Linked DNA regions of Homo sapiens: region 2 is linked to region 1. The links come from fine-mapping of genetic effects on gene expression. A gene starts in region 1. The other region holds a variant in brackets. All regions are shown on one strand. Distances are from middle to middle.

What was found.
Region 2: its variant is fine-mapped to the expression of CCNJ in NK cells (Gilchrist 2021, PIP 0.95).

Annotation. Positions count from the first base shown.
Region 1 is chr10:96,035,782-96,052,168 of GRCh38, reverse strand. CCNJ (cyclin J) reads right to left here and starts at 8,586. Exons shown (of 6, transcript NM_001134375.2): 1 at 8,450-8,586; 2 at 7,707-7,816; 3 at 1,703-1,913. The coding sequence starts at 7,775. All of the region lies in intron 2 of ENTPD1-AS1 (ENTPD1 antisense RNA 1), which reads left to right. RefSeq lists silencers at 8,306-8,875, 9,003-9,197.
Region 2 is chr10:96,657,272-96,673,658 of GRCh38, reverse strand. The region is part of intron 2 of PIK3AP1 (phosphoinositide-3-kinase adaptor protein 1); the gene reads left to right. Among named protein-coding and RNA genes, the nearest start is that of PIK3AP1, 55 kb to the left of the region's middle. RefSeq lists a silencer at 6,720-6,789 and enhancers at 8,900-8,969, 15,647-15,706. The variant G/A (reference allele first, on the strand shown) is at 8,642.

The DNA of each region.
Region 1 (16,387 bases):
AACTTTAATTAGAGGCTAAATTAAAGGTTAATTATAAATGTACAAGCATTACCTCTCTGGCTCCTGGGTAGGGGGATGAGGGATGAGTGAAGTGTCTGAATTTTAGAGAACAGTAGATTAAGGGGAAATGTAGATATTCAGGAAGTAAATGGTATTCTAAGAATTTTGCTCAACGTACATGGGGATGAGACTGGAAAGGTGGCTGGGTCCAGATGAAAGATTCTAAACACTACATTAAGCAGTTTCCACCTTAATATATAGGCAGTGGGAAGTCATGCTGCAGCTGTGTTTTATTTACATTCAGCCTGGTTCTACAATGGATCTGAAATAACTTACAAAGGGACATTCTGGGGACAAAATAAGTAGTTGAGGTCATCAGATCAAAGGAAGAATAAAGGTCAGAAAATAAAATCTGAGAAGAGATTAGTACCAGAAATGATACTACATAGGACTACATTTGGTTTTAGATTTATAAGCAGCCAGGCACAGAAGTGCTAAAGAACTCTGGTGGCATGGATATAGGGGGAATGTTCCTTATTTCATCCCAGCCATATTTGACCCCAAAACCTCAAGGGAGAGTTAGAGGTGAAGGTTATCAGTATATCTACATACTCCTTTAAGATTCTATTATAATGACATGGATAATACAGAAACTACATTACTGATTTAACTTCAATATCAAATACAATCTTTATCCCTCAAGTGAGAGTTAAAAGTGAAGGTTATCAATACATCTACATACTATAAATTTCATTGTAATAACATGAATATAGAAACTATATTACTGATTCAACTTCCATATCAAATACAATCTTCCACATTATTAAAAGAAAAAAAAACACAATTTCAATTCCTTTACGTGCCCTATCTTCAGTGAGAGTACCAACGAGCAATGAAATGAGGTATAGGAAGATGTAAAGAGAAAGAGGGGCCAAAAGATCCACCAGTATATTCTGTACTAAGTAACAAATATGGTTGTATCAGATTGTATCTTGGAGCCTACTACACAGTTGGTCTAATGCATAAGCAAAAGTTTTCACATTTATAGTAGTTGCACATTAACTTTTAGTTCATTAAGCCAACTCATTATTTAGTCAGTAGAAAGTATTCTAATATAAGAATATGGTACTTTTAAGACAGTTTCTCAACTTTAGCTCCATTGATGTTTTGGGACAGAGAATTTTGTTATGGGAAACTGTCCTGTACACTACCGGATGTTTAGCAGCATCCCAGGCCTCTATGTACTAGATGCTAAAAAAGCATCTCCCACTTTATCACCAGATGTGACAACCAAAACGTCTGTACACGTTGCCAAGTGTTCCCTGTGGGACAAAACTGCTCCTGGTTTAGAACCACTGCTTTAAGACAATGGTTCTCAATTGGAAAGGTAAATCAAAATCACCTTTGGAACTTTTTCAAAAAGTTAAAAAATACCCAGTACCCATTATGTAGATTTTGTCTTAGTAGATCTGGAGTGGCCGAGAATGTACGGCTTAGGCACATGTTTTTAACAGGCTCCAAAGCCATTTTTCAATGTCTGGTTAAGAATTATTACACTGAGAAGCACTTTTAACATAAGCTTCTTGATACTAGTGAACTGGAATGAATGGGATTTGATGATATTTCACTGAGTTCTACATAAATTTATTTTATTATATAAACATCAGAAATTTCCAGTCATGTAAATCAGATTCATACTTACTTGCTAGAAGCAGGCAGGAAAGCGCAACTAAATGCAGCTGCTGGATAGAGATGTCATAGCGGTCCATAAACAGGTCCAGTAAATAGACAGCAAGATGGCGGGCAGAAGGGCAGAGTGTGAAGCGATTGCTCACAATGGCAATCAAGTCAGCAAAATACCGTCTGAGACTTAACTGAGGGGACTGGCCTTTATAGGAGGGCAACTTCAGCTCCTAAGTCAAAAGGAACAACATTTAGTCTGACCTATCTGTAGGCGTATCCCCACAAGGCAATGACTTAACATTGTTTTTCCAATATATTAGTATTACAAGTGCCTAAAACATACTTTTCTTGACTGGAATACAAAAATGAAAAAGTTAAGTGGAGGGATAATGAATGACATTTAAAACCAAATTTTTCTCCTTACTCTTAACCACTTCTGATGTGAACAATTATAGATGTTCTTGTTTCTTGCTTTCTAGAATGGATACATCCTACAAAGATTTTTAATAAGAGAATCCTGTTTTCCCTACCAGGTGTTTTCAGAAAAACATCCCTGACAAACCAACCACATACCACACACACGCCCCTACACCTCTCCAAGATGCTCAGAACTTTTGGTTAGAAGGTAATAGATAAGTGGATATGCTGCATACAGTATTATACTTGCAACAGTGTAGAAAGCAGTACCTTTCCTCTAGTATCTTCTAATTTTGTTTCCCTTTTAACAGTTTTATGATCTGCCCTTTCCCATCATCCTCTCATACACCTAAAATCACTTCAATCTCAGGACTATATTATATCAACTTGTTTTTTAAAAACTGGAAAAATTCTATACTATTAAAATATTTCCAGAGCATAGAGAAAGATGGAAAGCTTCCAAATTCATTTTATAAGATCAGCATAATACTGATACTAAACCCAACAGGTATCACAATAGAAGAAGTAACAGGGATACGATACCAAAAGCAGAACTTCCCCTACCCTGCAAAAAAAAAAAAAAAAAAGAAAAAGAAAAAGAAAAGAGAAATGGGACTTTAACAAAATTAAAAACTTTTGTTTAACAAAAGATGCTATCAACAGAGTAAAAGGGCAACCCGCAGAATGGATGAAAGTATTTATAATCATATCTGATAAGGGGTAAATAGCTAGATTATATAAATAACTTATACAACTGGATAACAACCAAAAAACCTAATTATAAAAATGGGCAAAGGATTTGAATAGACATTTCTCCAAAGAAGATACACACAAATGCCCAAAAAATATCATAAAACATGAAAAAGATGTTTGTTCAGCATCACTAATTATTAGGAAATGCAAATCAAAACCACTAACAGCACTTCACACCTAGTTGGATTGCTATTATCAAAAAACAAAACAAAACAAAACAAAACCAGATAATCATAAGTGTTAGCTTGAATGTGGAGAAACTGGAATCCTTGTGCATTCCTGGTGGGAATGTAAAATGATGTAGTTGTTACAGATAACAGTATGGCAATCCCTCAATAAATTAAACAGAGTTACCACATGATCCAGCAATTCCACGTTTAGGTACATACTCAAAAGAACTGAAAGCAGGGACTTGAAGAGAGATTTGTACACACATGTTCAAAACAGGATTACTCACAATAACCAAAAGGTGGAAACAATGCAAATGCCCACCAGCAGATGAATGGATAAACAAAATGTGGTATATACATGGAGTATTATTCAGCCTTAGAAAATTCTTATAATATACTACATGGTTGAACCTTGGAGACAGTATGCTAAATGAAAAAAGTCATGAAAGAACATTTATTGTATGATTCCACTTAATGAGTTACCTAGAATAGTCCTATTTACAGGGACAAAGTAGAATAGTGGTTATCAGAAGCTAGAGGGTGGGAAATTGGGGAGTAATCGTTCAATGGGTATGGAGTTTCAGTTTGGGAAGATGAAAAAGTTCTAAAGATAGATAGTGGTGACAACAATGCAAATGTACCTAATGTCACTGAACTGTACAGTTAAAAATGGTTAGAATGGTAAGTTTTATGTTATGACAGCTGCTGGCAAGGTTGTGGAGAAAAAGGAACGCTTTTACACTGTTGGTGGGAGTGTAAATTAGTTCAACCATTGTGGAAGACAGTGTGGTGATTCCTCAAAGACCTAGAGGCAGAAATACCCTTTTACCTAGCAATCTCATTACTGGGTATATAACCAAAGGAATATAAATCATTCTACTATAAAGACACATGCATGTGTATGTTCACTGAAGCACTATTCACAAGAGCAAAGACATGGAATCAACCTAAATGCCCATCAATGATAGACTGGATAAAATGTGGTACATACAGACCATGGAATACTGTGCAGCCATGAAAAGGAACAAGATCACGTCCTTTGCAGAGAGATGGATGGAGCTGGAGGCCATTATCCTTAGCAAACTAATGCAGGAAAAGAAAACCAAATACCACATGTTCTCACTTATAAGTGGGAGCTAAATGATGAGAACACATGGACACATGTTGCGGGGAACAACACACACTGGGGCCTGTCGGAGGGTGGGGGTGGGAGGAGGAAGAGGATCAGGAAGAATAGCTAGTGGATGCTGGGATTAATACCTAGGTGATGGGATGATCTGTGCAGTAAGCCACCATGGCAAACGTTTACCTATGTAACAAACCTGCACATCCTGCACACGTACCCCTGAACTTAAAAGTTGGGGAAAAAAAGTTTTATGTTGATACATTTTACGATAAACAAAAAAGGGAAGTTATATATTCACCTAACTTAATATTACCTAAGATAAATGGATAAAATAGTCAATGTAATTTAGTAGTGTAGCCAAAGAATACATCAATTGTTGTTTTTTGAGACAGGGTTTCCTGTAGCCCAGGCTGGAGTACAGTGGTGCCATCTTGGCTCACTGCACCCTCCACCTCCCAGGCTCAAGCAATCCAACCACCTCAACCTCTGGAGTAGCTGGGACTACAAGCGCTCACTGCCACGCCCAGTTAGTTTCTGTACAACAGGGTCTCGCTATGTTGCCCAGGCTGGTCTCCAGCTCATGGACTCAAGTGATCCACCTGCTTTCAGCCTCCCAAAGTGTTGAGATTACAGGTGTGAGCCACCATGCCTGGCCAAAAAAATTTTTTTTTTCCACATAAAGGGAAGATGCCGATTTCTCATGTAGTTCCTAGGATTTTTCTTTTCTCCTTAACTCTTTCTTTGGATCTTTACAATGGTGTAAGTGAGTTGCAACTTTACCTTTGCTGCCACCATGTGACATTTATTGAGCATCTCCCATGCAGCAGACACTATACTAACCCAGGCATAAAAGCTGGAAAAACAGTCTCAAGCCTATCTCTAGCAGGTGAATCAAATACAGAGCTTATCACACAATATAGTCACCACAGGTTATTATGGCAACACCTAGGAAGAAAATCTAACTTAGCTCAGGGATTAGGGAGTTGGGGAAAAAAGGCAAAACCAGAGCAGGTTTTCCCAAAAAGTGGCCTGAACATGGTCTTAAAGACTCCCTGGAAACACCTGGAAAACACTGATGGACTTCACTTTCTTAATGTTTCTCACAAAGCTAGAATTGTTCCCATTTGTCATTAAGGCTCCTAAAAACACTTTCCCAAACAGCCTATGACACTAACTATACACAGCAAAATAATGAGAAGAAAGGAGACAAAAGGGTGTAAGGTGACAGCTGCTTTGTAGGGGTTTTTTGAGGGAGTGGATAGTTGGCATGATTTCCATTCATTGTCATTTTCACTCTTCCCTAGTAAACACAATGCTAGTCACACCAAATATTTCTCCACAAACCTAGGGCCTAAACATAGAATACCTTCTGCAGTATCTCAATGGCAACTGCCCAAAGGAAGACCTAAATGTGGATGCTCTAAATTATAGATAAGGTTAGACTATGAAGGCAAGGATCATGTCTCGTTCACTGTTATTGCTCTAACACCTGGCATGATATCATGTATGTCATAAATGATCAACATGTTGAAGAAAAACAGATGACTATCCGACTGAATCACCAATTAATAGCCTGGAATTACCACGTCTTTTCTAGGAGAAAAGTCCATTTTAAGTTTCCTTCAGTGTATTACAAACAGTGGTCTCTCCAGTTCCACAAGTTTAAGTTTTACAGATTAATGTAAATTCTTGTATAAAGTGTTGCCAGTAAGAACCATGGTTTGCATAATGCTTAAACATAAAGACAACCCAGGGCAGTAGGCCATAGGTGGCCCAATAAAACTTTCAGTGGCATTCCTTCACACCCTGTGCTACCTTGTCCTCTGATAGTTCATAAGCAACTTGAGTGAGTATAAGGTTGGGTCTTATGCCTTGGATGCTCCAGAAACTAATCCACAAAAGCCTTCAACAAATCTAAATCTAGGAGAAAAAACAAAAAAACAAAGAACCCATGTCCAAACTCAATTGACAAAATGCAGATAATCACTCACGAATTAAAATGATCTACACATAAAATGATTGAAAAGTATGGAAATCACCAAGAAAAACCTTTTAAGTTTCATGCCAATTAAAAAATATACTCTTGGCTGGGCGCAGTGGCTCATGCCTGTAATCCCAGCACTTTAGGAGGCCGAGGCAGGTGGATCACCTGAGGTCAGGTGAAACTCCAACTCAAAAAAAAAGTACTCTTAATATCAACTAATTAATTTCACTACATACCAGAGGGATAAAAAGGCTGACACTTAAAACACTTTTCAAAATATGTGCAACTATATTAATTTTTTTAAAAAAGAAAACATTTCACATTGAAAGATGACATCTGCCAAAAAAAAAAAAGATCAAAAGTGTATCTGGACAATTTTCCAAGAAACTGCAACTCTTTCCTAACTAACACTCCAGAGATCCCATTAGTTAGAATTTTTATGTGGTATAAACCATCTCCTAGGGGGCTGAACTGTATTTTAGTGAATCTAAGAGACTGAATGTCAGAATTAGTTAAGTAGCATTTAGAAATCTCAGGCCTAGAAAAGGGTAACAATTTAAGTCAGAATTAGGTTTTCCAATCTACTTGACCTGGTCAGAAACTCAAGATAAAAGTTCATTATCATTCCAGGATCTCAACCCCAAGAGTCAGAATCCTTTTTATTGAAAGTCAGCTGTTTTGCTTCTTTCTCAATTTTCTACATTTAACAAATGGCTTTCTTTATCCAAGGTGAAACTGAGTTAAGCTAGAGATCATTTTGGATCTGGTCTCTCTTTTGGTTATCGAAGAGGCAGAAATGTCTCATTAATCTGCCTTGCCACATGCAGAGTAAAACCGTTACTTAATAGCAACAATACACAGACTTTGCTTTGTGTTGGAAAAGTATTTTTTTCCAATATCTATTAAGTCTACTTTCTGCCTTTGATATCAGCAGGAAGGGGCAGCCAACTCCCTCCACTTTAGGGCTTTTGAACAGCCCAAATCCTGAGGGGTAAGTGATAAGAAGTTATCACTTAGTGCTTACTATATACCAAGAGCAGTTTCTAAGCACATGTACGGTACTAACTTAAGTTTCACAATCGCCAGAATCATAAGGCACACTCATTATTCCTCATTTTACAGATGAGGAAATCAAGAAACAGAAATTTCACTTGTCCACGTCTCACGGCAAGTTAGCGGAAAGGCTGAGGAATTTATGTACAAAAGCGACTTAAACTGGCTGCATGCAACGGCAACTCTCGAACAAAGAGGGCTGTTCTGCCCAACAAAAATTCAGTGTATATATCTTTTAAAATACAAGATCAAATTCATGACCCACCTGGAAGCCAGAACGCCCCTTTCCACCTTCCCTGGCCCAACTACCATCTCCCTACTCATTCAGGTTGCAGGTTCTTTTGATACATCCCAGAGAAGGAGCCAAGAAGTTAATTAACCTTGAGCAAATGAGCAAACTCGCCTTTTCTGGCCCGGAAGATAGTGAGTAAAGAACCTGACTAGACCTTCTAGAGAGCCGAGATTCAGAACAACTGGCGCGACACACAGAAGGAGAAGGCAGGCCGGGCCTCGGAGTTACCTTGTAGCGAAGCGCTTGGTGAATATCGGCGGCCAGCTGTCCTCGCCACCACTGCCCCTCCAGCTCCATGGGACCCGGCGGCGCGCCCAGCCCGACGCGGCAACTCGAGTCTGTAAGACACACCCCAGGCGCGGTCACTGCCGGCTCCCCCGCGACCCTCTGCGCCCCCTCCCCGGGGGGTGTGACCTCAGGCCACCCGGTGTGGCTGCTCATCTTCACTTGACTCTTCCTCAACCCAGCCCGACCCGAGTCGTTTCCCCCAACGCCACACGCGAAGCCGGGTCTGCCCCCGCAGGAAGAGCCGAAGGACTCTGAGACTCACTGCTCGACTATGTGTCGGGCAAAAGGGGATCCACTCGGGCCCTGAGTTGCCAAAGCGCGGAGCCAGGTGCGAGCTCGGGAAGAGCTGGGGGAGGCCCGGCTGGGGCTCCCTGCGTCCGGGGCTGGAGTTCTCCCGCCCTCCCTGAGGAGCGGGGAGAGGTGACACGCTCATAGCCCCGCTGAGGGGAAACGCTCCCATGGCAAAGCCCGGGGGTGAGCGTCTGCCTGGCCGCGGGTCTCCGCATGGACGTCGGGAGCCTGCTCCTCCCCGGGAGCCCCGAGAAACGCACGTTCCGCGCGGCCTCAGAAAGGGGAACAAAAGGCCGGGCCAGCCAGGCTCTGCGCCTCACCCCGGGAGGGTCCGCTGCCCCACGCCTACCCCAGGCCTGCCGGGCCGCCCGGCCCCACGCTGGCTCCCTTACCCGGAACCGCGGCCCTCACAGCCCCAGCCCCGCCGTCGTGCGGCGGACGCCGGCCCCGCTCATGCTGCGGACAGTGGGCCGCTAAGCGCCGGCCTCAGCTAGAGCCCAGCGCCTGGACGCTCGCGCCGCCCATTGTTAAAGGACCGGCAGGCGGCTCCGCATACAAAGCCAGCGCGGGGGCACTTGAGGCCCCGCCGCTGCCAATCTCGTCTCGCGATACAGCGGGGTCGCCCCGAGCCGTCCAATTGGCGGCCGGGCCGGGCCCAGGTGCAGCGCCAGGCGGCGGCGCGGCGGCTCCCGCCTGGGTACGGTCAGCATCCCGCACGGCGCGGCGTGGCCTGGGCTGGCCTGGCGCTTCGGTTGCCGGGGCGCTCAGCCGCCACCTACTGCGAAGCCGGCCTGATCGCCGGCTGAGGTCGGCAGAGAGCGCCGGAGAAATTGTAAGGTGGATCACTGCAGTGACCAATCCAGTTAGGCCACTCACCTGCTGAGAACCTTCGATGGCTCCTCGATGCCCGCGGAGCAAAGTTCCGACGCCTCAGTTTGGCGTTTAAAAGTCTTCACGGCATGGATTCGGTTTACCTTACTTCACGTTGCACCAACCGCTTCCATCCCAGGGGCTGCTCCGTGGATCATCAGGCCCTCCAAATGTGCTTTAGCTGTTTCTGCAGCCCCTGAAGCGTTTTTTTTTTCCTGTGAAATTATGCTCTTTTTTTAAGTTCCACCTCAAACTCCACCTTTCTTCTAGAAACCTAATTAATCTCTTCCCCCTCCTTATTTTCGTTGCTGTAGGGATTCCCAAGAGCTTTGAATGAAGACATTTAAGATTACTTCTAGTAACCTTGCTTGTCAAACCCATGGTGGATGTAATTAACCATCTGTGCTCGTAAATCAGGAAACTGCAAAACTGTGAGAACACTCCGACGTCAATTGAGGTGATATGGGGGCTGAAATGTGATTAGAGGAAACCTAATCAATTGTATTTTAACCTCTTTGGTGGATTATCACAAAAGAGGTGGATGGTAACCCTAGGACAGTGAGACTGTCCACTTTTCTGAGACTGGAGATCAATCTCTTAATAGTAAAACGTAAATATTTTTAAAACTTCACCCCTTTTACTTTGAATCCTTTGTCCAAAAAGATACATGATGATAAAGAACTACTACAAAGTGATAAATACATTTTATGTGATTCTGGGTGGCATCTTCATTTGAAGATCATCAGCAGACATGTATATGAGCCGTACCCTATCCATAGACGATGCTTATACCCAGGAGAGCAGGCCCGCAGGAACCAAAGGCAAGAAAAGGGAAACTCAGAAGCTGAAGTTGGCAGATCCCGGCCTAACCCGACATAGTCCAGGGAGAAGGCTGCCCTGGCCTGTCTCTCAGTTGCAGGGTCCTCTAGAGTGAAGGTAGACACATCAGGCTAAAAGCTTCATGCCATTTTTAATGGCATTTAAATAGTGTCTACATCCTTGGGTTCCATTTCATGACTATTAAACAACTTTATAATAATTTGGCTTCTAAATAACTGTCCAGGGCCTATTTAAGAACACTTTCAGAAAAATGGGGCACAGACTATAATCATTAGTATAAGAAGTAGACTGTATTTATCGCTTCTACTTTGAAAATATTGTTCACTGGGATATATTTGTTCAGAAATCATTATTGTTTTCTGGACTTGCCTTGTGATGAGAAGACTTCAATGTCCATTTCCTTTTATGGATTAATGTTCATTTTACACATATATTTTGCCATAGTGTGTCTTAGATAGTAAATCCTTAAAATGCAAAGTTCAAACTTACTATGATTTATTTAATTCCTTTAGAGCAAGGTGGACACAGTTAAGGTATTTACTTAACTCCTAAAGTCTCTGCTCTCATAGAGTTTTTATTCCACTAGAAATAGAGATACAATGAACAACAACAAAAAAACATATCACATGGTGACAAGTGATGTGAAGAAAAATAAACAGAAAAAAAGGCTAGAAAGTGACCATGGGTGGGCTGGGTGTGGTGGCTCATGCCTGTAATCCCATCACTTTGGGAGGCTGAGGCCAGCAGATTACCTAAGGTCGAGAGTTCGAGAACAGCCTGGCCAACATGGTGAAACCCCGTATCTACTAAAAATACAAAAATTAGCCAGGTGTGGTGGTGGGCGCCTATAATCCCAGCTACTCGGTAGGCTGAGGCAGAAGAATTGCTTGAGCCCGGGAGGCGGTGGTTGCAGTGAGCCGAGATCGCGCCACTATACTCCAGCCTGGGTGACAGAGCCAGACTGTGTCTCGGAAAAAAAAAAAAAAAAAAGAAATGGGTGGACTTTGTTTCATGATAAGGTAAGGCATGCAAAGGCCTGAGGGAAGTGAGAGAGTAGGTACGTATCAGGTGGCTGAGCATTCCAGGCCGAGGGAATTGGTACACGCAAAGACTCTAAAGTGAAGGCATGTTTGGAATGAAAATAGAGGCCACTGTATGTCTGGAGTGAAGAGGAGATAGGAAAGACGTTCTAAGTCAAGGAAGCACTGATCACCAATGGTATGAAAGAATGGAAGTAAAAAAGGCAGAACATCTATATAAAGGGCAGAATAGGGAAACTGCAGAGTCCTTTGTGACTGCAGCATAAGGCACAGGTAGATTTGACAAGAGATGAGGTGGGACCAGATTCTCTGGAAATCTTCTGTAACTCACAGAACTTTACGCCGTGGAAAAGCACTGATTTTTTAATTGTTTAAGTTTTTTAAATGAATGCATGAAAAAGCTAGAAGATTTCAAGCCATAGAAGACTATACAGTGACTAGCAAGTTTCTTTCCCTCCCTGGTCCCAGTTTTTTCCAGAGGTGACACCATTACTCTTTTCTTTTGTAGCCTTCCAGGGATATCCAGGTATTTATAACCATGTATATATATATATATATATATATATATATATATGAAACTCCCTTGCCTCATTTTATGTACAAATGGTAGTATGTTACATGCTCTGTTGTGTACCTAGATTTTGTCATACAGAATATTCCGGCGAACATTCCATAACAGGACATCCAGGATTCCTTTTAATGGCAGCAGCATATTCTACTGGATGCAAAGGCCTGGAAGCCAACAGCCCTGGGCTCTGGTTCTCTGTTCTTGATTTGTTGCTATTTGTAGTATTCAACTCATTGCAACTACTATTCATATCCACCATCTCTCAGTTACACTTGTACAGTAGTCTCTTAACTGGTCTTATTGCAACTGCTCCTGTCCTTCTTGAAAATATTCATCACCTAGTAGTTGGAGTGGTCATAAAAAGGTAAATCACATCTGAGCTTGATAGTCAAGAGTTCCTAGATCACATTTCCAAACTGTTTTAGCATATTGAACAATGTTAAGGATAGTTTTTAAGTCTACTTTATAAAAAATTAGTTCCAGGTATTTGTAATCACAGATATTTGTAATCTGTAATTTATGAAAAATATTCCAAATTTTAAAATGCTATATAAGATTCTATTTCTGGATAAGATGAATGTGACAGTTAATTTTATGTGTCAACTTGACTGGGCCAAGATTGGGTGCCAGATATTTGGTCAAATATTATTCTGGGTGTGTCTGTGAGAGTGTTTTTGGATGTGATAAACATTTGAATCATGGAGTAAGTAAAGTGGATTGCCCTCCCTAATGTGAGTGGTCCTCATCCAATCAGTTTAAGGCCTGAATAGAATAAAAAGATTGACCCTTTGTCGAGGAAGAGAGAATTCCTGCTGCCCAACTTATTTGAGCTGGGACATAGGTCTTTCCTGGCCTTCAGACTCAAACTGAAACATCAGCTCTTCTTGCATCTTGAGCCTGCCGGTTTTCAGACTGGAATTACCTGTCAACTCTCCTGGTCTCCAGCTCCTGACAGCAGATCTTGGGACTCCTCAGCCTTTATGATCATGTAAGATATAGATATATAACTATAGATATAGATATAATTCCTTAGTTTATATATCTGTATCTCTGTGTATATGCATATACACACATATATATGCAGATAGATAGGTAAATACACACATATGCACATGCACATTCTGTTGGTTCTGTTTCTCTGGAGAACCCTAACACAATGGATTAAGCCAGCTTCACCCTGTCTCTCCCACCGAATGTAACTATAAAATCTGGACAGACTGCATGAGCAGCTATTTGAAGACAATGTAAAGTAAATAGTAGCAGGCAAGTGGGGAGGAAGACCTTAATTTGAAATATCACCAAACTGGTGGTGAGTTACCCCTTCTTCCTCCAGGATTCCCCAGCTTGGATTCAGGAAGCCTGAAATCTAGAAATGGGCACCAGGGCACAGAAAGGGAGAGCCCTAGGAGAATCCCTTTTGTTATAAGGAACAGCAAAGGAGTCTCCTAATGATCAGAGTGAGGCAATTCCCATTTATTTATTTTTTCTTTCTTTTCTCTCTCTCCTGCTGTAGCCCCCAGGCATTCTTCAGCAGATTGGTGGTAGCCACAACAGTGGTAATAGGGGCCAACAGGTGCCGAAAACTTAGGAAAGGAAAGCCTCTTATCTGATCAGAACAGCTGTGGTTGTTTGTTTTCCTTTGTCTTCCCACTGCCTTACTCTGGATGGAGGTACAATAATGGGAAGTGTGGGCAAAGAGGTGTAACTAAAAACCACAGCTTTATGGCTGGAGAACTGAAAAAGGGAGGCCCAGGGAACTGAAAAGTACTGGGGAGACTGTGGAGAGGGAGGAGCAGCTTTGGAAAATGATCCCACAAAGTGCTTATGAACAACTGGGCTTACCTCTGAGTTGTGCATACATAGATCCACTCTGAAAAGACTAAAAACTCAGAACTGCCCAGAGCAGTGGCTGGCCACTAAGCAGCACACATATGTGACAGATCTGAGTAGCACAGAAAGACTTTGAAAATGGACCTGACATCGAAACCACAACCCACAAAAGGCTAGCCAGAACTTGCAGCCTGAACTCAACCAGATTGGTTCCCGGCTACAACAAAAAACATCAACATTCTCCAAAAGATTTAAGTAAGACGTAGATCTCCTAACATACAGCATATTCAAATTGCCCTGGATACAACCCAAATTACTCAGCCTATGAAGAACAAAAACAAATCTCAATTCTCATGGGAAAGACAATCAACAAACACTAACACTAAGATGACAGAGAATTATTTGACAAGACTTTAAAATAGCTATTATAGTAATGCTCCAAGAAGAGAAAACTTTCTTGAAATGAATGGAAAGATAAGAAGTTTCAGCAAATAAATAGAATACATAAAGAAGAAATTAGATGGAAAATTTATAACTAAAAAGATAGAAAAAAACAAAACTTAAAAACACTCATGGGATGGGCTCATTAGGAGAATGGAGATGTCAGAGTAGTCAGTGAACTTCAAGGTAGATCAATAGAAATAGTACAACCTGAAAAAAAGTTGGAAACAAATGAACAGAGACTTGGAGACCTGTGGGATAATACCCAGTGGTCTAATGCTTATGTCATTGGAGTCTCTGAAGGAAAGGAGAAAGAATATGGTACAGAAATATTTGGGAGAATAATGGCTGAAAATTCCTCTAATTTGAGAAAAGACAAAAACAGATTCAGAAACTCAGGTGATGCTAACAAGGATAAACCCAAAGAAATCTATACCCACACACATAATAAAACTGCTAAAAACTAGGCTGGGCACAGTCGCTCAAACCTGTAATACCAGCACTTTGGGAGACCAAGGTGAGTGGATCACTTGAGGCCAGGAGTTTGAGACCAGCCTGGACAACATGGTGAAACCCCATCTCTACTAAAAATACAAAAATTAGCTGGGCGTGGTGAGGTGCACCTGTTATCCCAGCTACTTGGGAGGCTGAGGCAGAAGAACTGCTGGAACGTAGGAGGTGGAGGTTGCAGTGAGCCAAGATTAAGCCATTGCACTCCATCCTGGGTGACAGAGCAAGACTCTGTCTCAAAAACAAACACACACACAAAAAACCCTTCTAAAAAACTAGAGAAAAAAATTGAAAACAACCAGAGAGAAACAAAACATTACTTATAGGGGAAGAATGAAAAATTCAACGTATGGTGGGTCTCTCACCAGAAACCAAGAAGACCAGAGAGAAATAGAACAAAATTTTTTAAATGCTGAGGTGCCACAGAAAAGAATGAAATCATGTCCTCTGCAGCAACATGGTTGTAGCTGGAGACCATTATCCTAAGTGAATTAATGCAGGAACAGAAAATCAAATATCACATTCTCACAAGTGGGAGCAAAACATTGGGTACTCATGGACATAAAGATGGCAACAATAGACACTGGGTACTACTAGAGCAGGGAGGGAGAGAAGGGGGGAAGGACTGAAAAACTAACTGTTGGTTACTATCCTCACTACCTGAGTGATGGGCTCATTCATATCTGCAACCTCAGCATCATTCAATATATCCATGTAACAAACCTACACATATGCCCCCTTAATCTAAAATAAAGGTTGAAATTTGTTTTTAAGTCCTGAGAGAAAAGAACTGTCAGGCCCAGAATTCTAATCCTGCAAAAATATCATTCAGAAATGAAATTAAAGACATTTGAAGATGAAAGAAAACAAAGACTTGTTGTCAGTAAACCTGCTCTAAAAGAATTGCTAAAGGACATTTTTTAAACAGAAGGGAAATAATACCAGAAGGAAACTTAGCACATCAGGAATGAAGGAAGAACAACAGAGTGATAAATGTTTGGGTAAACATTCTTTTCCACTTGAGTTCTTTAAAATACATTTGATGGTTAAAAGCAAAAATGTGAACATTGTCTTCTAGTGTTTTCAGCATATACTTCAACAGATACAATATATTAGACAATTATACCATAAAGGCAGAAGTACAAAAGAATATGTGGTAAGATTTCTACATTCCACTTAAAAGTGGTAAAAAGTAGATTCTGTGTAGGCTGTGAAAAGTTAAATGTGTATTAGGATAATCCCTAGAAAAACTTAAAAAATATATACAAAAACATATAGTCAAAAATATAATAGATACATTAAAATGAAATACTAAGAAATGTTCAAATAACCTGAGAAAGCAGGAAAGAGGAAACAGTGGAACTGAAACAGAGCAAATGAAATGCAAATAATGAAATGATAGACCTAAGTCCAAACATACCAACAATTACATTAAGTGTAAATTGTCTAAACACACCAATTAAAAAAGATTATCAGAGGGTATAAAAAATATCATAGGCCAGGCATGGTGGCTCACGCCTGTAATCCCAGCACTTTGGGAGCCTGAGGTGGGCAGATCATGAGGTCAGGAGATCAAGACCATCCTGGTCAACATGGTGAAACCCCAGCTCTACTAAAAATACAAAAAATCAGCTGGGCATGGTGGTGCACACCTGTAATCCCAGGTACTTGGGAGGCTGAGGCAGGAGAATTGCTTGAACCCAGGAGTCGGAGGTTGCAGTGAGCCGAAATTGCACCACTGCACTCCAGCCTGGCGACAGAGCGAGACTTCATCTCAAAACAAAACAAAAACCGTAACTCAGGTATATGCTGTCTACAAGAAACTCATTTCAACTATAATTATATAGGTATGTTAAAAATAAAAAAATGAAAATATGTATACCACACAAACCCTAATCAAAAGAAAGCTGGAGTAGCTACATTAACATCAGACAAAACAGACTTCAGAGCAAAGAAAATTACTGAGACTAAAGAGGGACATTGTATAATGATAAAAGAGTTAATTCATTAAGGAGACATAAATCCTAAATGTGTGTCCATCTAACAATAGAACTTAAAATACATTAAACAAAAACTAACAAAACTGAAAGAAGAAATAAACTCCCTGGCCAACATGGTGAAACCTCATCTCTACTAAAAGTACAAAAATCAGCCAGGCATTGTGGCAGGCGCCTGTAATCCCAGCTACTCAGGAGGCTGAGGCAGGAGAATCGCTTAAACCTTGGAGGTGG
Region 2 (16,387 bases), 620 kb before region 1:
TCCTGAACCAGGAAACCAAGAAGAGCCTGTGAAAAGGTGAGTTATTAATGGCCTCATGACAAGCCTGCGTTGTGCCATTTGGACGAAATTTACATAGGGAGAGGAAGCACATTTATAAGTGTCTGAAAGAGATGAAGAAAGAGGAAGCCTTTCGGGGGGGGCTGTGGTAGCTCCTGCTTTGTTAGCAACACTGGGGTTTCCTGAACGAGGAAACAGGGGCCTGCAGGCCTCCAGACCTGGGTGCCTAGAGGGGAGCACTTTCTCACAGGTGTGGAGATGGGATACAGGTTGGATAGTGCTCCCTAAGGATCCTGATAAACCCCGCCAAGGAAGCTTACCTGTGCTCTTCTGGTTGCCTGTGCATGGTAGATGCAGCCCGAGACGCTGAATCCAGGATAGAGGTGGGTTTTTGTGCAGCCCATTTACCATGGTGGGGAAGTAGATTTTCCTCCAACCCTTCCCAGGTTTATATCCCAGAGACTGGTTGAGGGAATGTCAGTCTGTGGCTGAGATGCAGCTCACCTAGCAGAATCTTTTCCCCTTTTGGGTCATGTTTTCTGAGAGTGGCTGTTCCTTCTGTTCTTCTGCTAACCAGATCTGGAGTTGGGAGCTTTGAATTCTGCATGTGGTTCTACCATTAAACCAGAAGCTTATGAACTAGGGCCGGTCAGTTCATGGCCCATGCCTCTATTTTTCCATCTGCAAAATGGAGATAGTCATCTCTGTCACATGTGCCTGGAGACACTGAAAGGAGCAAAGGAGAACAAATCAAAAAGTTCAGAGGCACTGGGCGCTGAGACAACTCCAGCTGACCCTTGGCTTCTTGGTTGAGGATAGAGCAGCTCTATTTGGGAAAGCTTCCTGAAGGTTGAACTTGGAAGAAAGTTAGAGGGCCCCAGCCCCAGCTGGGAGAGGACTGGGAGAGCCGCAGGCAGGTTTTATCATTGGTGGACAAGAGTGGGCACCACGGTGCTTTCATTGGTTGTCATGGCAGCCTCAGATGTTTTGCTATTTTTGCTCAAGCTGAAGAGCAGGTAGGGTGGGTTGGGGAGGGGAAGGGAAAAGCTATAGGCCTTTGCTTTAAAAAAAGCAGCAACAAGAAATGAACACTTTGAATAGCTCATTTAGAGCTAATAGTTCATTTATTTAAGGGAGTGGGGAGTGCTGGATAAAAGTCTTAGAGGCCTAAGGTCATCTTTCCTCCTGTCCTGCTCCCTTGATCTTGAACCTCAAGTACATTGAGGAGGGCCAGGTGAATTACCTGATGAATGAAGGAAATACTGTTCCTTGTCTGTGTGAGCTAGAAAAGATTTGGGCTGATGTCAGTAGATCCTTGACCCAGAACCCTCCACCCAGCGCTGCAAATTCACCGATGTGCAGTGAAATCAGGCAGCCTTAGGAGTCTGCGTCTGGCACAGAACACTGGGATGGCAAAACGATTGCATATGATGAGTGAGCCCACCTGCATTCCAAAGTTACCAGCTCCAACCACCTCTGGAAGCCAGCATGGGAGTGTGGAAGAAGTGGATTCATTCCTCCTTCTTCGTTTCTACAACTTTCTCTTTGTTTCCAGGGAGACAGTGTGACCACCATGACTGTATTTTTTTTTCTTTGTTTTTTGAGACAGGGTGTCACTTTGTTTCCCAGGCTGGAGTGCAGTGGCACAATCATGGGCCACTGCAGCTTTGATCTCCTTGGGCTCAGGTGAGCCTCCCACTTCAACCTCCCAAGTAGCTGGGACTACAGGCGTGCACCATGCCTGACTAAATTTTGTATTTTTTGTAGAGACAGAGTTTTGCCATGTTGCCCAGGCTGGTCTCGAACTCCTGGCCTCAAGTGATCTGCTTGCCTTGGCCTCCCAAAGTGCTGAGATTACAGGTGTGAGTAATCATGCCTGGCCATGACTGTATTTAAAGTCTGAATTAGGAAAGTATCTGTAGGACTCTGCCTTATCTTTTTGGCATCATGAGGATGATGATGATGATGACGACGGTGATGAGAACAATGATTGATGTCACTTTAATTAACTCACACTAACACTTCTAAATAATTGTCACCTCCTCCCTCCCCTGACTTCAGTGTCAGTAAGACATCTGGTGGGTAAGAACTTGGCATTCCACTGACCCTCTTACCATCAGTATGATGACTGTATGTGACTTTGGGGGTAGCTGGTGACTTGTGGGTTGGGTATACCTGTCACTCTCTGTTGGGAGCTTTGTAAGTGAAAGGGGTTAGTTGGACGGGAAATTCACTACCCAATGACCAAGGTGGGTGAGCAAAGAAGAAAGACCCATGGTGATGACTAAAATGAAAAAGCAGTCTTGATGTTTGCCAGGAAGGTGGGGGAAGGTGAGGGTTATTGAAACTTAAGGTTTGAGTCCCACCATTGCAAGCCTCTCACCTCCAACCCTGTGAACCCACAAATATTTTCAGTAGAGCAAAGGCTCCTTCACTGGGGTCCACACACTGGGAATCTGGACACAAGGCCAGGTCTGAGGTTTCCTTTTGTGCTTTCTAAGGACATGACAATAGCTGTGATGCTGAATTTCTGAGGAAATAGCCAGTGTAAACAAGATAAATGCAGTGTAAACAAGAGACATGTTTATAGCCTACTTCAGAATCATTTTCTAAGCATACTGTAAACCATGCTTGTGGTACCTTTTCAGACATTGGTTAATTATAGCAACTTATTTGTTCTTGAAAGCAGATAGGGCAGGATGTTGACTTGGTAACACTTTGTTAGCCACTCGTTTGTGTTATTTTATGCATCTGGAGGCAGCGCTTGCTCGGGGTGGGATGGGTGGTCAGGCACTCGTGTTCTCAGTTATGACCAGACTTTACAAAAGAGCTGATACATTCTGCCTGAATGTCTGGAATTATTTCAAAAACAAGCAAAGACAGTTTTCAACTTAAGAAAAATAAACTGCATTTTCAATCTGTATTTTACAGAATTTCCTTTTCTCCTGAATACATTTTGCTGACAGGTCTCCAATATACACCCTGCATGGGAATCAGGGTCCTCTCAGACACCCAAACTCCCTTCCCCTCTCACACAGCCCTTCCCCCATATAGAAGGTGTTTCTTGTGGCCCAGACACATCATTTGCGCTCATGCCTTTGTGCCTTTAATCATGCTTTTCCTCTGCCAGAAAAGTCCTCCCAGCTCTCCTGTGTGGTCTCTCCAGTACCAGTGAGGACAGAAATTTTCTCACTCTTCCATTTCTTGGGGAGCCTGGGATAGGCTTTGAATATTTATTATTCATTGATAAATAATGAGTATTTATTTGTTGAAGGGATAAGGAAATGAACAATGAATTATTTTATTACTTTAAATAGAAAATATCATGCCTTTTTCACAGAAGGGTAAGTTCAACATCCCAGTGCTATTTGACCGAGGGGAGCTTGCCTTCTTCATCTCTTAGGAAGTTTTTCTCAACTTCTGAATTTTTCATGTGCAAGCACTTTTCTGTCTCTCTCTCTCTCTCTTTTTTTTTTTTTTTTTTTGATGGAGTCTTGCTTAGTCACCCAGGCTGGAGTCAGTGGCGCAACCTCCACCTCCCAGGTTCAAGTTATTCTCCTGCCTCAGCTTCCCGAGTAGCTGGGACTACAGGCGCGTGCCACCACGCCCGGCTAATTTTTGTATTTTTAGTAGAGACGGGATTTTACCATATTGGCCAGGCTGGTCTCGAACTCCTGACCTTAGGATCCGCCCACCTCGGCCTCCCAAAGTGCTGGGATTACAGGCATGAGCTACCGCACCTGGTCCCACTTTTCTAAACACTTAGAAACATTAACTTAATTTAGTTCTATTTATAGTCTCATCGTACAAGTTGGTGCCTGGTGATAAGGTATCACATAATTCTCTCTGGTTTTTTTTTTGTTTGTTTTTTGTGTTTTTTTGAGACAGGGTCTTGCTCTGTCACCCAGGCTGGAGTGCAATGGTGCGATCTCAGCTCACTGCAGCCTCCGTCTCCTGATTAGCTGGGACCACAAGCACACACCACCACACCCAGCTAATTTTTTGTATTTTTGGTAGAGACAGCGTCTCATAATGCTGCCCAGGCTGGTCTCAAACTCCTGAGCTCAAGCAATCCTCCCGACTCGGCTTCCCAAAGCACTTGGATTACAGGTATGAGCCACCGCGCCCGGCCTCCCTGTTTTTTCATGTGGGGCCTCATCTTCCCAATTCATTGGAAGCTCCTTAAGGGACACAGCTGTACAGGACACACTTCTGGAATTCTCCTGTGGGATCCAGGCCAGTGCTAGAACGTGGCAGATGTGTTCCGTAGACACTTGCTATGTGACTAGGAAACTTCGTAGTAAGCTCAGGTTTTGGAACATTTTATTCGGGGCTTTGAAAAATAGCTGTTTCGTGGTTTCATCACTGTGGCTTAGGTAGGATGAATGAACATCGTAACAGCTGAGAAATTTCATCCTGAGTGGACAAGCCTCTGGAAGTTTCTCCAGACCTTGGGTAACTCTATATTCCTGCCCCATTTGTGTGGTGGTTAAATTTTATTTTATTTTTGAGATGGAGTCTCATTCTGTCACCCAGGCTGGAGTGCAGTGGTTCTATGTCAGCTCACTGCAGCCTCCGCTTCCCGAGTTCAAGCAATTCTCCTGTCTCAGCCTCCTGAGTAGCTGGGATTACAGGCGTGTGCCACCACGCCTGGCAAATTTTTGTATATTTTTAGTAGAGATGGGGTTTCACCATGTTGGCCAGGCTAGTCTCAAACTCCTGACCTCAAGTGATCTGCCTGTCTTGGTCTCCCAAAGTGCTGGGATTACAGGTGTGAGCCACTGCGCCTGGCCCCGTGTGGTGGTTAAATCTGAGTCCTCAACTTAAAATACAAATGCAGAGGAAACACAGCCCTTTCTTCTGTGAACCCCAATACTTAGGTTGCTCATCTGCATCCTTCTAAGAAATCTTTGAATCTTCTTCAGTCTTTTTTTCATCAGCCACACTGGAAGTCTTGGACATGAACCACGATACCCCCCTACTTTGTCCCAGCACAGAGACACACAGGTTCCCCTGACTGGCCCCAGTGACTGTTTCTGTTTAATTCCATTTTTGAGTAGATTGGTGGCAAGCTCTTAATTCTCAGTTGAAACTTATCTCCTTAGTTTCCTTCTCTGCTCACTTTCTTTTTCCTTGTATCTAAAACTTAGAGAAAGAATCCAGCATGTTTATGCTACAGGCCTTCATCCTGCCTTCCCACCTTGACTTTACCTTATTTAAACTAAAAAATAATTAGTTTAACAAAATGGAAGCAAAATAGCATAATGCAGCATTTCCCAAACTTCAGTCATTTGAGAACCACCAACCTCGTTTTTGGCTTATGTTTGTACCATAGTGCTACTATTTTCTTAAATTCATGTACCATACAATTCATGCATTTTAAGTGTACAACTCAGCAGTTTTTGGTGTATGCGGTTAATTTTTAAAAATTGTGGTAAAATGTAGGTAACAGAGTATTTGTCATTTTAACCAATTTAAAGTATACAATTCATTGGCATTAATTACTTTCACAATGTTGCGCAGCCATCACCACTCTTTCCAAAATTTTTTCGTTGTGCTATTAAGTTAATATTTTCTTTAAGTCAATTCATATTTTCTAAGTAAGTATATTTTAAAAGGAAACTTTGCCACTCTACATGAAAAAACCAGTATCTCTTGATATAGATAGAAGTTAGATATAAAAATATAGATAATAAAAAGTACACATTGGTATTAAATTCTGTGGTACACAGATTCCTACAGAAGCCTGTGGGCTTAAGGCCCTGTTCCCTCTATGGCGCAAAAGGAGAAATGCATGGTAAAGAGGTGTTGAAGGCATTCTTTTACTGGTTGAAGTCTTTTCTTTTTGATTTAAGTGGAACTGAAAGATTTGAAAGGGGACTGCTTTCTTAATGTGTGGTTCAGTGTTTTGGAATGTTTGCTGTACACTTTTATTTTTTTTTTTCTTAAAAAATCCTTTATCATCCAACTTGACGCTGTACACTCTAGAATCATCCTGGTCTCACCAGGGTGCATGGCTCATGGTATGGGAAACCCTGGCAGATGGATGACAGCATGGGTTTGGTTAAATTGTTGTCAGGTTGCCTTACAGCACACACTGGGTGACTTGGACAGTGTACTTAGATTTTGGCTGTAAAATGTGTGGAATGATACCAATGTAGTTGCTGTGATAAAATGAAATCATTTATGTTGTGTTTTGCGTAGTTCCTAGCATATTGTAACCGCTCAAGAAATGGCAGTTCTGGTTGTTTTTAAGAACCATGCTTGTTTATGCATTTCTCAAGGCTTAATACTGCCTTACAAGAGTAGTTTGTGTCCTCTGAAAAATATTCTCCAAGATCAGCAAACGTCATTCTTTTCCACACCCCTTCCAGAGCGCCAACTGAGTACCAGACATTGTATAGTGAAAAGAGGCAGTGAGCACTGTGGTGTGAAAGCTCAGTTGGAAAATGGGAGAGTGCAGCCTTGGGTTGGAGGCCACTAGGGCATGGAAGACCATGGATGGTTCCATTGGCATGAAATATTTCTTGACTTAAACCCCATCCTTGGAATGTGCCCATTTGCCATGGTGGCAGGTCACAGCATACCTAACCAGGGCAGCATTGCTCGGAACAAGGCAGCACCTTTAGGCGTCAGTGACAGCAAAAGCTCCAGGTTGTGTCTCATGAACTTCAGAGTCACAACCCCAGACCAGGAATAGGAAGTGATACCTTCCACTGCCCTGGGCCACATCTAGAAGGGAGGCAGGGCAGTGGCACCTGGGGGTGGGGAGTGGATTCCTACCTCTGCTCCGTGCTGCTGCTTGACCTTGGCTGGGTAATTTCATTCCTTCTGGGCACTGGATTTTCATCTATAAAATGGGAATAAGCATTGATTCCTATTTTACAGGGTTGTTCTGAGGATTAAATGAGATTAGGACTATTGAGCAGTCACCATAATATTTAACAAATGGGAACTTTGATCATTATCATTATAAGTAATAATAATGACTGTCACCAGCTCTTACCTAGCATTAGCTACTCCATGTAGCTTAGTTGTGGGTCCAAATGCATACATATATTTATTACATTTAAAATTCATAGTTTTTTTCAGACCCAAATAGTGTATAGATTCCCCTTAAGGGAAATAAATATTATGAAGCTTTAGTGTCGACTAATTAATGATTTTGATGTTGTTTAAATATGCATAGACATATTTAACTCTTTTTTTTGTTTGTTTGTTTGAGATGGAGTCTCACTCTGTTGCCCAGGCTGGAGTACAATGGTGCGATCTCGGCTCACTGCAAGCTCCGCCTCCCAGGTTCACGCCATTCTCCTGCCTCAGCCTCCCGAGTAGCTGGGACTACAGGCGCCTGCTACCACGCCCGGCTAATTTTTTGTATTTTTAGTAGAGACGGGGTTTCACCATGTTAGCCAGGATGGTCTCGATCTCCTGACCTTGTGATCCTCCCGCCTCGGCCTCCCAAAGTGCTGGGATTACAGGCATGAGCCACCTCGCCCGGCCTATTTAACTCTTTTTTTATTTGTATGTTCTATAGTCATACATATTTAATTCTTTATGTTTATTGTTCTGTCCCAACTCCGAAAGCAAAACAAATGAACAAGACACAAATACAGGTATAAAATAAATAAAATGCAAATCGACCACGTTCATTTTGTCATAGAGGATGCTGGTTTATTGTGGCAGCGTCCTGTGCACTGTGTGGAGGCTGTGGTACTCGCCAATCTGTGGGGAGTCTTGCTCCGTCTCCCCTGTGTTATTTTGGGGCTTGGATCTCCCACCACATTTCTCTATTTAAAGTAGTGTACAGGAAAATCTCCTTGTGTTCAGTTGGCACAAATGTCTCATTTCCATATCATCCTGCCCCCTTCTTTCCTCAGTAACCTCTGACATTTAGCATAGCATGACCTACCTGCAAAGAGATTGCAGACACAAACACAGGCTCAGACTCCTGTGGCAGGACCCCCTTTATAACGTGGTCATTCATATAATCTGAAAAGTTCTTGCATCCCATTTAAAAGGCATTATGATCTAAATGAAGAGCCCAGACACCGATTCTCATAAAGAACGTATCTAAGGACTTTCTGCAGACCAGACACTGGTTTGAGAGACAGTGACTCATATACTGACTGGATCTCCAAAGTATTTGAAGCAGTCTTAAAAATTAAACACAATATAAAAAAGAGAAATAGGCAAGACCAAGGACCTGGACAGGAGTGTGAAAGAGGCTAAGAACCAAATTTGTCACCGAGCAAGGGCCAAAGGTGAAATATACCAATGTTCGCTCGTTCCTTTTATCTGATAAGAGAAAGCACTCAAGTTCTCTGAAGAGACAGACTTTTCCTGCCATAGAATTCAAGGAGTATTTATTACATGGATCCTTTATAGATGACACTTTGAAGAACCAGATGCACACAGAAAGTCTTTTTCAATCATTTCTCCAGAGTTTCTCTAGACTTCATAAAAGCTGAGAGGATATTGTGAAATTTTAAAGCAGTGAGGATGCTACTGGCATCTTAATAATACTTTACACTGAGGAGGATCCCTGGGGTTTTCAGAGTACCTTCGCTCAAACATTATTATTCGAGTCTCAGGACAGCAAAGGTGGTATTATCTTCAAAGC[G/A]GGAAGTGGTCCAAGAGGGATCTACATGTTCAGGTGGGAAGGTCTGAGACCACCCCACTCTGTCAGGTGGGTAAGAGCAGTGCTTATGTCTGAGTGGGCATTTCCTTTGAAGGAAACTTTTAATCTGCTGAAGTGCTTGGACCCTGGCCCTGTTGGGACTCTGCCTTCTCCGTAGTGCATTGTGGAAGAGGCCACTGTGGCTTGTCAATCAGCGCCACCAGAATAACCCTGCAGAATGAATGACATCCTGCCTAACTTCCTGAAATGAGTGAGCTGCTGGTGGCTATCTAAGGTGACTAAATGAATAGACCTACTGGAAGGAATTGTTTATTTTGTATGGCCTGTCTGAATGCTGGGAAATATCTGCCAAGTGCCGCACTATTAGCATCAATCTCATTTGTGTCAAGCTGGGCTCTTGGGCAAAATTATTAGCTAATAGATTGCATTGGTTTTGTGCCTATTTTAAAAAAATGATTAGCTAATAGATTGCATTGGTTTTGTGCCTATTTTTAAAAAATGATTAGCTAATAGATTCAGTTGCTACTTTTTCCCTTACCCTACCCCCATTATCAAAGAAATGCTTTCTCACTATGGAAAATACTAAAATACATAAAATGGTAGAAGGAAGGAGGGAGGGAGAGAGGAAAGAAGCATGCAGAATCCAGCCACACATTTTCTTCTGACCTTTTAAAATGCATTTTTTATATAATTGAAATCCTGCAGCATCTGAGATATAATTTTATATCCTGCTTTTTCGCTTCGCATGCCGTAAGCTTTTACCCATGTCACTTAGAACTCTTTGAAAATAATGTTTTTAATAGTCTTTTAGGTTGTTTTCAGTTTTTTCACTGATGCAAAGCCTCTTGGTTCAGAATCTTTATTTTGGACTTTTATTTTCCTCCTTAAGAGAGACTTCTGGAAATAGAATTATGTGGCAAAAGCTGTGAACATTTTCAAGGCCTTCTCTTTCTCTGGGTGTGGACACATGGCTTTCCAGAAAGATTGTGCAGTTTGTACTTCCCTCAGCAGCTGGGGGGTATCTGTCCTCCAGTCACCTTTAAACCCTGCACTGTTTAAAGTTTAAAGTTTATTGGGTGTACTTCACAGCATTTTCTAATTTGAAAAGCTAAAATAGCAAGACAGCATTGTATTTTCATTTGCATTCTCATGATGACTAGTGAGAATGAATGATATTTGTTTGAATGGGGAGGTAATTTGTATTCCTTCTTTTATGAATTGTCTTCTTATTGGTCTTGGGGTATTTTAAAAGAGATTTCGTGACATCTTCGTATATTAAGAAGATTAGCCCCTTATCATTTTTACTTCAAATTTTTAAACTGTTTGTGATTTGCCAATGGGTTTCTTTTTTTTTTTTTTTTTTTTTTTTTTTGACGGAGTCTCACTCTGTTGCCCAGGCTGGAGTACAGTGGTGCGATCTCGACTCACTGCAACTTCTGCCTCCTGGGTTCAAGTGATTCTCCTGCCTCAGCCTCCTGAGAAGCTGGGATTACAGGCGTATACCACCATGCCCGGCTAATTTTTGCATTTTTAGTAGAGACGGAGTTTCACCATGTTGGCCAGGCTGGTCTTGAACTCCTGACCTCAGGTGATCCACCTGCCTCAACCTACCAAAGTGTTGGGATTACAGGTATGAGCCACCGCGCCCAGCCTGCCATTGGTTTCTTTGTTGAGGTATAATTCACATACCATCAATTTATCCATTTAAAGTGTACAATTCAATGTTTTTTTCGTATATTCACAGATTTGTGCAATATTCACCATAATCCATTTTAGAGTATTTTCAATCAATTTTAGAATATTTTCATCACCTCAGAAAGAAATTTCATACCTCTTAGCTATTGTCCCACAATCCTGCCAATCTCCCCAGCCCAAAGCAACCACTAATCTACTTTCTGTCTCTATAGATTTGCCTGTCCTGGACATATATTTGGAATCATATAATTTGTGGTCTTTTATGACTATCTTCTTTCACTTAGCATAATGTTTTCAAGATTCATGCATGCTGTAGCATTTATCAGTACATCATTCATTTTTATTTATCTATTTAATTTACTTATTTATTGAGATGGAGTTTCCCTCTTTTTTTTTTTTTTTTTTTTTTTTTTTTTGAGACGGAGTCTCGCTCTGTCGCCCAGGCGGGACTGCGGACTGCAGTGGCGCAATCTCGGCTCACTGCAAGCTCCGCTTCCCCGGTTCACGCCATTCTCCTGCCTCAGCCTCCCGAGTAGCTGGGACTACAGGCGCCCGCCACCGCGCCCGGCTAATTTTTTTTGTATTTTTAGTAGAGACGGGGTTTCACCTTGTTAGCCAGGATGGTCTCGATCTCCTGACCTCATGATCCACCCGCCTCGGCCTCCCAAAGTGCTGGGATTACAGGCGTGAGCCACCGCGCCCGGCCGGAGTTTCCCTCTTGTTGCCCAGGCTGGAGTGCAGTGGCGCGATCTTGGCTCACTGCAATCTCTGCCTCCTGGGTTCAAGCAATTCTCCTGCCTCAGCCTCTTGAGTAGTTGAGAATACAGGCGCCCACCACCATGCCTGGCTAATTTTTTGTATTTTTAGTAGAGATAGGGTTTCACCATGTTGGCCAGGCTGATCTCGAGCTCCTGACCTCAGGTGATCCACCCGCCTTGGCCTCCCAAAAGTGCAGGGATTACAGGTGTGAGCCACTGCGCCCGGCCTTATTTATCTATTATAATAAGAAAATGTGTCTCTATTTATATAAAACAACATATTGTTTTGAAATTTATTTCTCTTTATTGCTGAGTAATGTTCCATTATATGGACATACCTCATTTTGTTTATCCATTCATCAGTTGATGGACATTTGGGCTGTTTCCACCTTTTGACTATTAGGAATGATGCTGCTACAGCATTTTGATTTTAGTTTTTTGTTTGTTTACTAAAGTTTTAAATTTATATTATCAAGTCTTGCTCATTTAGATTGTGATTTTTGTTTGTTTAACAAATATTTTCCCAAACCACTGATAAAATGTTCACATGTATTTTCTTTTTAATTTTTAAAATTTGTTTATTTATTTTGCATTTTAATCTCTAATCCATCTAAATTTTATTTTGGAGTTATAAGAATTAGGAAGAATCTAAATAGTACCCCTCACTTTCCCCTCTCCTTTCCCTTTCCTTTCCCTTTCCCTTTTCCCTTTCCTTTCCTGTCCTGTCCTGTCCTGTCCTGTCCTGTCCTGTCCTATCCTGTCCTTTCCTTTTCTCAGTGTCTCGCTCTGTCTCCCAGGCTGGAGTGCAGTGGCACAATCTGCAACCTCCACTTCCTGGACTCAAGCGACCCTCCCACCTCAGCCTCCCAAGTAGCTGGGACTGCAGGCACATGCCACCATGCCTGGCTAATATTTTTGAGTAGATTTTATATTTTAGAGCAGTTTTAGGTTCATAGCAAAATTAAGTGGAAAGCATGCAAAGTTCCATGTCTGCTCTGCCCCTATGTACACACAGCCTCCTCCCACCCCCATCAACATCCAGCACCAGAGTGGCACATTTGTTACCACTGATGAATCTACATTGATGCATCATTATCACTCACCCGAAGGCCAGAGTTTATATTAGGATTCACCTACTGTTGTATACTCTATTGGTGTGGACAAATGTCTAATAACATGCACCCACCAGTATAGTATCATACAGAGTAGTTTCATTGCCCTAAAAAGCCTCTGTGCTCTGCCTATTCATTCTTTCTTTCCTCCTAACCACTGGCAATCAGTGATCCATAGTTCTGCCTTTTCCAGAATGTCATATAGTTGGAATCCTACAGTGTGTTTTCAGATTGGCTTTTTTTTTTTTAGATGGAGTTTTGCTCGTTTCCCAGGCTGAAGTGCAGTGGCGCAATCTCAGCTCACTGCAACCTTCACCTCCCAGGTTCAAGTGATTCTCCTGCCTCAGCCTCATGAGAGGCTAATTTTTGTATTAGCCTCTCGGCCTCATGGCTGGCTAATTTTTGTATTTTCAGTAGAAACAGGGTTTCACCATGTTGGCCAGGCTGGTCTCGAACTCCTGACCTCAGGTGATCCAACTACCTTGGCCTCCCAAAGTGCTGGGATTACAGGGGTGAGCCACCATGCCTGACTCAGAGTGACTTCTTTCACTTAGTAATATGCATTCAGGTTTTCTCCATGGCATTTCAGGGCTTGCCTGCTCATTTCTTTTTGGTGCAGAATAGTATTGTATTGTCTGGGTGTACCGCACTTTATCCATTCACCTACTGAAGGACATCTTGGTCACTTCCAAGTTTTGGCTGTTTTGAACAAAGCTGCTATAAACATTTGTGTGCAGGTTTTTGTGTGACTGTAAGTTTTCAATTCTTTTTGGTAAATACTGAGGAGCATGATTGCTGGATTGTTTAGTAAGCTTGTGTTTAGTTTTGTAAGTCTGTCTTCCAAAGTGGCTGTACCATTTTGCATTCCTGCCAGCAAAGGATGCATTCCTACCAGAAAAGGAGAAGAACCTCGGGAAAGGATGCAAGTTCTTGTTGCTCCACTTCCTGACCAGCATTTGGTGTTGTCAGTGTTCTCGCTTCTGCCCATTCTCATAGATTTGTAGTGCTATTTCATGGCTGTTTTAATTTGCGTTTCCCTGATGACATATGATGTGGACCATCTTTTCAAGATATACAGATGGCTTCTTTGCCATCCATGTGTCTTATTTGGTGAAGTGTCTGTTCAGGTCTTTTGCTCTTTTTTAAAATCAGGCTTTTCGTTTTCTGCTTGTTGAGTTTTAAGAGTTCTTTGTATATTTTGGGTACAAGTATTTTATTAGATATGTCTTTTGCAATATTTTCTCCCAGACGATCGCTTATCTCTGCATTCTTTTGACAATGTCTTTCGCAGAACAGATCTGTACTGGTTTTTAATGCTTTTTAAAATCCCATATTAAGTTTTTATGGGAATGAAGCCTTAATTCTGGACCATCTCTTGTATTCAATTGCTCTATCCATTCTGTTTTTTAATAACTTTAATATAAAATAGGACTATCCTTTATTATTTTTTAAAACTTTACTAGAAGACGTAATACCTATATAAATGGAGTTTTCCAGGGTAGGAAATAATTAGTATTATAAAGAAGAACATTGTCCCAAATAAAATGTTAAATTCAATTCAAAGAAGGTTGTGTGGCTTTTACTCTAAATATTATTTTAAAACTGAGGAGTGTTTTTTCATGGTTATTACTTTTTTTCATGGTTATTGATTTAGTCAGGTTTTTTACTTCTTTAAAGACAATTTCAATACTTTATATTTTTCTATTAAAATTGCATTTTGTTTTTTTTTTTTTTGGTAGAGACAGAGTTTTACTATGTTGCCCAAGCTGGTCTTGAACTCCTGGCCTTAAGTGATCCTCCCACCTCAGCCTCCCAAAGTGCTGGGATTACAGGTGTGAGCTACCACACCTGGCTGCATTGAGATTTTCTTAGCACAGAGTTCTCACTTTAATATGAATTCTTACCGTAGACTTTTCACTTCAATGTGTTTCATAAAATTTCTTAAAATATAGACTAGTGGGCCAGTAATTTGGGAGAAATAAAGGATTTGTCTTTGTTGAAACAATGGTAGACTGCACTGTGGGTCCATCCCAAAGAGGTTATACCTGTGTGATATACTAGAATAGGTAATTGGTAAGAGTTTGAGCCACTCCAGCCACTGTGGCCACTCAGAATAGTATCTAAAAAATTCTGGAGCAAGAAATAGTTTCAAGGAGCTTCTTTCTATTTTAAGTAACTGAATGTTTCAAGTCCATGGGATTACTTTCTCATCCCAGAAGAACCTCAGAAATATTTTTTTAAATGGTATGTCCAGGAATCTAATAATAATTAACTGAAACTTCATAAAATCCTTAAGAAGAAGACTGTGTGAATTGTCCCTGATGTTTTTGGCTTTTTCCATTACAAGCTCCTGTGCTGAGTGAGGGTTGCTTGGGTGGCATGTATAGCTCTGTCCAGGGTGATGGGCCCTGGCTGTTTTAGAAGTGATCAGTCAAGGAGAGAAGGGTGTGGGGAAGGGCATATTCAGCAGAGAAAACGGCAGCCTACTGTGTTAGTTTTTGCAGGGATTGAGGGGAGAGCCAGGAGAATTAGAAAGGAGAGTTGGAGGAGACCGATGGTTCTGATGCCCAGCTAAAAACCATATCGCCTTGCGTAGAACACTCTGGGTCCTTTGCTCTACCTCTTAACACTAGATTCTGCCTGACGTACAGACAAGGACAAAGATCTGGCAGCATTCAAACAGGCATTCTGGAGTAGCATGTCTTGGGAAAAATCATGGAGGGGGAATAGTGGCAAGAGTACATGCCTCATTGCCTGTTGCTCTCTAGGGCAGCCCATAGACATTCAGCAGTCAGATGCCAGGCTCTGGGACGGGACCTCCACTCTAGGCTACTGAGATTTTAAGCTGCATGGCTAGGGAAGAAGCCCCGGCCCCTCTGCTGGCCTGAGTAGGCCAGGGGTCAGGGTCTTATAGTTACAGCAATAGGATACGGTGGTACTGAGGCCCTGTAGCCCTGCCCCCAACTCGGCCTTTATGGTTGTGGAAGCACAGCCTCTTCCTAGCATGACCTGGGGTCTAGGGTGAAAGCCTGTGGTTACAGCTTTCCAGGGTGCCTATCAGCAGCTGTTTCGTAACCCTAGCATTCTACCAGGACAGTTGCCACAAACTCTGCAGAGGCCAATTTTCTTCCAGGAAACCAGGCTGCAGGAATCAGCCAAACTAACCCTTGCTTCTCACCTCTCCTGTCCTTTTAGATGATGGACTCTCTGAAGGCAGGGTTAGTGTCTGATTCGTCCTCGGGTTCCCTCAAGTACCTAACATATTTGGCTGCTTGTATAAGTGGTTAAGGAATGAATAAGAGCAAACCCCAAAAATAGACTGATGAAACTTCTCTCTCCTCTCAACCATTCTATTTTTTTTTTTTTTTTTTGAGATGGAGTTTCACTCTTGTTACCCAGGCTGGAGTGCAGTGGTGCAATCTTGGCTCACTGCAACCTCTGCCTCCCAGGTTCAAGTGATTCTCCTGCCTCAGCCTCCCAAGTAGCTGGGATTACATGCATGTGCCACCACACCTGGCTAATTTTGTATTTTTAGTAGAGACGGGGTTTCACCATGTTGGTCAGGCTAGTCTCAAACTCCTGACCTCAGGTGATCCGCCTTCCTTGGCCTCCCAAAGTGCTGGGATTATAGGCCACCACGCCCAGCCCTCTCAACCATTCTTAACCATTTTGGGATTCTGTCCCTCTTTGGGGATCTGATGAATGCTTTGAACTATCTCCAGAAAAGTGCAGGCAAATGCATACACATGTGCATGCACACACACACACACACACACAATCTTGCACACAACCTCAGAGGTAGGTCTATCAATTAACAGATTCTGGTTAAGAGCCCCTGCCTTAGAGCTCTGGTAGGTTCTCAGCAGCATCTCATTCTGTGCCAATACCACACACATTTGCACACCCCTGCTCACCAGCCCTGACTCTGTGCATGCTCCAATCTTTCCGTGGTACAGGTGTTGCCTGTGGAGCCTGGTTAGATTTATCTAAAGTTTGTTGAAAATGATTGCTTTTCACTTTTGCTTCCAGAGGGGATACATTGGCTAGCCATAACCCTGAGACCTAGTGGCTTTCTGGACAGTGCAGGTTTTACTTGATGTTCCAAGAATGACCTTTAAGTGGACAGTCCCTACTTGAACCCACCTAAGGGGAAAGGGCCTTCT